Linked DNA regions of Homo sapiens. The protein of the gene in region 1 purifies or fractionates together with the protein of each later gene. This does not show direct contact. Each region holds a gene or a part of one and is shown in the gene's direction. Other genes may lie near its edges.

The links. Proteins that work in one complex are often made in the same cells at the same time.
Region 2: the proteins of PAPOLA (region 1) and CSTF2 fractionate together in Homo sapiens (co-fractionation; one large-scale study listed by BioGRID). This does not show direct contact.

What each region holds. Positions count from the first base shown.
Region 1 is NC_000014.9:96,561,324-96,564,818, forward strand, and holds part of PAPOLA (poly(A) polymerase alpha), read left to right. Parts: intron 1-1,495; coding exon 1,496-1,570; intron 1,571-3,495. UniProt on the Homo sapiens protein: Polymerase that creates the 3'-poly(A) tail of mRNA's. Also required for the endoribonucleolytic cleavage reaction at some polyadenylation sites.
Region 2 is NC_000023.11:100,823,260-100,827,137, forward strand, and holds part of CSTF2 (cleavage stimulation factor subunit 2), read left to right. Parts: intron 1-32; coding exon 33-169; intron 170-626; coding exon 627-746; intron 747-860; coding exon 861-998; intron 999-3,374; coding exon 3,375-3,498; intron 3,499-3,878. UniProt on the Homo sapiens protein: One of the multiple factors required for polyadenylation and 3'-end cleavage of mammalian pre-mRNAs. This subunit is directly involved in the binding to pre-mRNAs.

The sequences.
Region 1 (3,495 bases):
GGAAAAATTGGAAATTCTCCCCCTTCTCCCAAATTATCCAGATTTCTATGATGGATATTTTAACAAAACTCTCTTAGGTTTTGTGTGTGCCCTCATAATGCCCTTGCTTTATAATTTTGATTCACTTTGTAAACCAAGAAAAAAGTATGTGTATCATTATGTAATCTACAAAATTATTAATGGCTTCATAGAATGCTGTCTTAAGGCTATGATTATTTTTATCCAACCAATTTCCTATCCATAGCAATTATTTCCATTTAAAAAAGAAAGTTGTGCTTTCCTGCTGTAATATTGGTTACAGCTAAATACCATATCTGCCATTCATTCATGTTTATTTACTTAGCATAAATTAATGGAAGAAGAATTATTGAGGAAAATAGTATGCTTTATCTTAAAGTTTGGTATACATCACCAAGTTGTCCTCCAGGAAGGCTGCATGTCTTCCATTCCTACTTCTTACATCTTATTTACCTTTTTTAATTTCATAGGAGAAAACAATATTTCGTTTTTTTTTTTTTTGGTATAGTTTCATTGAAATTGAAGTTTTTATATTTTTCTTTTCTTCTTTGTCCTTTTTTTGGTTTTTTTTGAGATGGAGTCTTGCTCTGTCGCCCAGGCTGGAGTGCAGTGGGACAATCTCGGCTCACTGCAACCTCTGCCTCCTAGGTTCAAGCAATTCTTCTGCCTCAGCCTCCCGAGTAGTGGGGATTACAGGCACCCGCCACCATGCCTGGCTAATTTTGTATTTTTAGTAGAGATGGGGTTTCACCATGTTGGCCAGGCTGGTCTTGAACTCCTGATGTCATGATCTCCCCACCTCGGCCTCCCAAAGTGCTAGGATTACAGGTGTGAGCCACCACGTCTGGCCTATATTTTTATTTTCATTTATTTGTGTAGATATTATTTTCTTTTGTGTACTGCTTTTAAAAAGTTTAGAGTGATGGCATGACATACTTTACCCTGTGTTTTCTGATGAGTAGAATCAGTGCACTGATTACTAGAGAGGGGTGAAGAGACCATAAGGAGGGAGAAATCTTTTTTAGACATATTTTCTACTTTTAATTAAAGGTGTGAGGTTATTTTATTTAGTAGTATTGAATAAGTTTTTTTTTTTTTTTTTCCTCCCACAAAGCTAAGAACTGTCCTTGGGTTTATGCTCTGTTATTGTCTGGGCAACATTTCATGATGTGCCTATGTGTGTTTTTAATTATTGTTTGCTTAAAATGTCCCAAGTTGGAGCTGGTTGGAAAGTCATGAGCTAGTTTGACCCATGCCTTATAAGATTTAAGTAGGCAAATAGAAATTTATTAATATCTGAAATGGTGAAATAACCTACAACATCTACTGACTAGATGTTTTTGTAATGTAGTCACATCTTTCTCTTGATCCCTCCTGTCTTCCAGTTTGTCTTCTTTATTAGCCACCAAACCCAGTTATGTTCTTTTATTCTTTTTTAAGTCTCTTTTCCCCCTTCCCCATCCTCTTTGTCTCACAGGAACAACTTGATACAGAGACAAGTACAACTCAATCAGAAACTATTCAGACAGCGGCTTCTCTGTTGGCCTCTCAGGTACTAAGTGCAAAAAGCAAGGAGAATTTTGTAAATGTCCTTAAGATTAGTGTGGTATATTGAATTAAAGTGAGAGTTCATAGAAGACTATTAAAATTAATCTTTCTGAAAGTAATTACTTGCTAGCCTATAAACGTATTTATTGTAGTTTTAAGGCAGGGCCCTGGATTTGACGGAACCGTTCTCTGGGACTGTTTCGATGTTAACCCATCCCCTTATATTAATATATTATTTGATACTGCAAATCATTTAAATTCTCACTAGTCATTTACACAGGGTTCATATGTAGGTTTTATTTGTAGGTCAAAAGTGAAATTAAAACTAGGAATGAACTAAAAAACATTCTTCGTGGATTTCTTTTGCAAAGGCTAATATATTTTTATTTTAAAAATGTATTTCTGCCTTATTTTTCCACTACTGATTTCAGTTAGTTATTTAATATAGCCCATAGCTCTTCAGAATTATGTTTTCATTTGTCCTAGCAATTCTACTTGTGACAGACCCTCACATACAGAATACAGTAGGCATCTGGAATCTTTTTTCATTGATTTGTGAACCTTCATTTTGTTGAATAATTTTTTTCTTGAATCCTTTCACATGAATGAACCCTAACATCTAGCTCAAATTCTGACACAAAGTAGATATATTCTTTAATAGATGATAAAACTGGTTAATGTCTACAAAGTAACTGAGATAACAACTGCTGCTGTACTGATATGATACTATGTACTATGATGATATTTTGCTGCTCCTGTGCAGCTCCGAGTTATTTTAACGTGATCATTTAAACATGTGCTTTTGCTAGATGTTAACTTTTATTGACTCTAAAGATATATAAATATTATGTTTAGTTTCTGAAATACCTTTTCCATAATCTAATAAAACTTTAGGGGGAGTAACTAACATCAGGAAGTATGCTTAATATTGATACGTGGACAAACTTGTTTATCAGTCTTAAACTGTCCTGTGATTGTGATTGCATGTTTTTTGGTTTGCCACATACTCTCGGGACTTATTTTCATAGTTTTGTCTTACTGAATTTATCCCTATAGTAATTAGTACCCATGGGTATTTGCCTTTTAGATATTTTTATGAGTGAGTAGAATTTTCTTTCTAATGAAAGGATTCATAGAGCCATAGAGAGAAAAATCACCCAGTTATGTAAGAAGAATGATTATGTTGATTTAAAAAAAAATTCATTCCTATCTTTGGTAATGTTAGGGGCGTACTTATTTCTGGGGAGGTGATAATATTGTGGCTATACCTAATAAAGAGTTCTTATTGTTTTGAGATAAATCTGGAAATATTTATAGATGAAATGATAAGATCTCTAGGATTTGCTTCAGAATAACACAAGGTGAATTGAAAGTGGGAGGACAGTGGCTTTGATTTGATAATTGATGAAGCTGGGTAATGAATACATGGGGATGCATTATACAGTGCTCTCTACTTTGTGTATGTTTGGAATTTTCCATAATAAAACTTTTAAAGATCCATCTCTGTATTTTTTTAGTGTTAAAGAACGCTTGTGATTTAATCTAATTAATATGAAAATAATCTACCTAAAATTTAGGATGATTAAATTATTGCTTAGCTGTATATATTTGTTTAATTTACAGTGTCAGAAAATAATAAATTTACTGCTGCTTCTGTATATAAAATGAGCTTTGAGTATTCTCCCACTTGGGGGTGCTCCAATACTAGTTAATATTACAGCTATTAGTGTTGTAATAAGTGAATACAGTTTAGCAGTAACTTAAGCATTATATGATAGGTGATTCTTAGAGGAACAATTTTAAAAACTATTTGAAATTACTTAGGAGTTTTTAAAATATTATTAAAATATACCTATTTGAAAATTCCTTTGTTGAACACATTATTTGTTGAACAAATAATGTGATAGGCATATTTACATTCCATTTTGA
Region 2 (3,878 bases), on another chromosome or scaffold:
CCCTAACTTTCTTGTACTTTCTTCTTGATTAGGCCTTGGCACTGGTGCCCCTGTCATTGAGTCACCTTATGGAGAGACCATCAGTCCTGAGGATGCCCCTGAGTCCATTAGCAAAGCAGTTGCCAGCCTTCCACCAGAGCAGATGTTTGAGCTGATGAAACAAATGAAGGTGGGAGGAGGCATTAGGTTATGAATAAAGCAAATCACATCAGGTTTTCAAGGAGTTACTTGAATTAGTTCCCTGAGCTCAAATAGAAATTGTCTGTAGACCACCATTTCTTGCACCTTCAATATTCTGTATGTACACAGTATATTTTACATTTTGTACAAAGAGCTTTCTATTTTTGTACACAAACACAGCTATCCAAACAATCCAGCTGGAGTTTTGTGGCCCATAGATGTCAGATGTAGATATTAAAATTTGGCTTTTTTCCTAAATGATAATATCACAGTATTTGAAATGCCTCTTTCTTCTCTTGCCTGCCATGACCAAGGTTTTTTTGTGCCATGCAAAAACTAATGATAAAGAGCCTCTTGAATATTACATTTCTCAGAGGGGAATGGCTCTAAATCACTATCAGTTTCTAAGTCATAAGTATTAAACCTGAATCTGCTTATCTTCTCAGCTCTGTGTCCAGAATAGTCCCCAGGAGGCACGGAACATGTTACTTCAGAACCCTCAACTGGCTTATGCTTTGCTGCAAGCACAGGTAGTGATGAGAATTGTGGATCCGGAAATTGCCCTGGTGAGTGCTTCTGGTTCTTTTATGGAAATGGTCGGGTAAACCTTGAATGGGATAGGAACTACCTGATTGCTTTGTTAAACAGACAGCTCATAGGTTTGTCTTTTCACTTTTTAGAAAATTCTGCATCGCCAGACAAATATCCCAACGCTGATTGCAGGCAACCCTCAGCCAGTCCATGGTGCTGGGCCTGGCTCAGGATCCAATGTGTCAATGAACCAGCAGAATCCTCAGGCCCCTCAGGCCCAGTCTTTGGTAGGGCTTTATCCCTTAACATTTTTTTGTATCTGTCTTAGAATGTCATTTTCTTTTTAGGAGAATATATTGAAAGAAGAATGGTCAGGAACCAGAGATGATAATTTCAATTTCCAGGCATAAAAGCAATTTCCAGGTTGCAGAGCACATGACATCTGAATGAATATAGATTCGATTCCAAGTTTGTAAAACAAAGAGATCCTTCCCGTATGCCCTTTTCTTATAAGCTAACTTTGTGTGTATGTGCATGCCTGGCACTGTGGTTGGCACTTCGTTATTCCATATGCATTATCTCATTTAATCCTCAAAGCAATTGTATGAGGTTGGCACTCTTATTATCTCCATTCTTACTGATGAAAAAAGTAAAGCTTGCTTTCAAAGCATGACACAAAACCTTAAAGCCATAAAAAATTGATACATTTGAAAACTAAAAAATTTCTATATAAAGAAAAAAATAAGTATCAAAGACATGACAAATTGAGAAAAAGTATTTACCACACATGTGATGGAAAACAGACTAATAAAGAGCCCATAGTCATTCACAAGAATGTTTATTGCCTTAGAGTGAAAAATTGGAAATGTCCTAAATGTACGTCAGTGGAAGAATGGAGAAAATGTGTGGTACATTCATCCAGTGAAATACTGTACAACAGTTAAATAAACTACACGTATCAACATGAATGACTTTGAAAAACATAATTCCATACAGCAGTTAAGATGAACTAGGATACATAATATCAACACAACTCCAAAACAGTGACATACGGACATGAAACTAAGTGAATATGGATGCATTCCCGAAATGTAGGATATATGTTTCTGCATAAATCCCCAAAATATGTGGAATGAGTTGCAAAATAATATATTGAGTATGTAATGATTCATATAAAATTTTGAAACATTAAGAAGACGTCTTAGTGGTCATCAAAGGAGAAGAGAGCACAGGATGCAATTGGGGAAGACCGTACAGGCCATTGGTTTATTTTATTTACTTATTTATTTCCTAAGCTGGGTGGCTATTTTATTTTCTATATGATTTGTATATCTGTAATTTTTCATAATAAATTTTAAAAGGCCTCCTATAAATTAGTAAGAAAATTTCCAATAACCCAGTAGAAAAATGGGAAATAGACATAAATATTTCACAAAAGGAGAAATATAAATATATAAAAATTTATTCAACTTCAAAATAAGATAATGTAATAAATTATCATTTATATATGTAATGTTATAAGATAATGTAAATAGAAACTACAATAAGCTACCATTTTTCATCTCTCAGGTTGGCAGAGGTACAGGGCAGGGACCAGCAAACATTTTTCTGTAAATGATCAGACAGTAAATATTTTTGGCTTTGCAAGTCACAGGATCTGCCACAGCTACTCTGCCATGGTAGTATGAAATCAGCCATAGGCAATAAGTGAACAAGTGTGTGTGGTTGTGTTCCGTTAAAAGTTTGTTTATAAAACCAGGCAGTGAGCCCGATTTGGCCCATGGGTCATAGTTTGCCAACCCCTGCTCTAAATAAATAAATACATTTTCAGAGATAGAAAAAAAAAGCTAAGGCCCAGAGAGGTTAGCTGGTCCAAAAATTGACACAATTATAAGTGGCAGATCTATTTCTGAACCTGGTTTTATCTGACCTCACAGCCAGTTTTCTCTTAACTACTTTCCTATACAGCTCTTCCTTTTCTTTTGTAGAGTTTTGTGTTCCTTAAACGTATATGTGATTTTTTTTATATAACTTGGCTTTTATTCTTTATTTATTGAGCTGTTTCTAATTCAAGGGACTACTCAGTTTTTTGGGGAATGCACAGATGAAAAGATGACATTCTCTTTTTCTCAACGAGTTTTAATGTAGCATTTAAAAAAATATATTTCACATTCCCCCAAAACCAGAATTATATCTAAGGACAGGAGTGAGAAAAGATTGGTTAAATTAAAAAAAAAATTTAATTTTAAAAATGTGGACTACCAGCAGTTGTTTTTTTTAAAAGAGTCCCAGTCTCCTTTTATGTTTCTTGGGTTTAGGGCTTTTTTTTTTTTTTTTTTTTACTCTTATTGGCAGCCCCAATCATGAAGTTAACAGTAGGTGTTATGTGCTGCCTTGCCACACAGATAAGACTTGTCAATCTCTACATTGAGAATATGTTCCATCTTAACCGTGTTCCATATAACCAGGCTCATGACGTATATTGCTTCTGTGGAGTTTAAAGTGTGTGACAAATCTAATGCTGCATAAGACATGCCATACAAAAAGGATGTTTAGTAGTGTATTTGGGGCTGTTCATTTGAAGAGGACTTTTAAGGTCGTAGACTTAGTATATTGAGTATCCACAGAGGCATATACATACTCTGTTTTTTTTGCTTGGTCAGGGTGGAATGCATGTCAATGGCGCACCTCCTCTGATGCAAGCTTCTATGCAGGGTGGAGTTCCAGCACCAGGGCAAATGCCAGCTGCTGTCACAGGACCTGGCCCTGGTTCCTTAGCTCCTGGAGGTAAGTTTCATTTAGTCTTCACCATTTCAGTACTTGCTAAAGTTTTGTCATAGCCACTGTTGCAGTGCAGCCAAATATGATAATGGGATCCTTAGGTAAAATTAATACACAGCTAGAAAGTATATATCTTAGGTGGAGGAAATAGTAGATTTCTTACGTTAAATCCTGTATGTCTAATTATAAGAACAGGGAAAGGGACAGTAAAGTGAAAGAGCATAGTAAAACTTCCAAGTTAACAAGGGGGAAAATGGAATGAGTGGAAACAAAATCAAGCCAGCAAAAATAGAGAAGAGGAAAAAAGTAAGAGACAGTGTAAAATAAGTAATAATAAATGTAGAGTAAGATGGAAGGAATAAAAACTAATGTAGTTGTTACTCTGC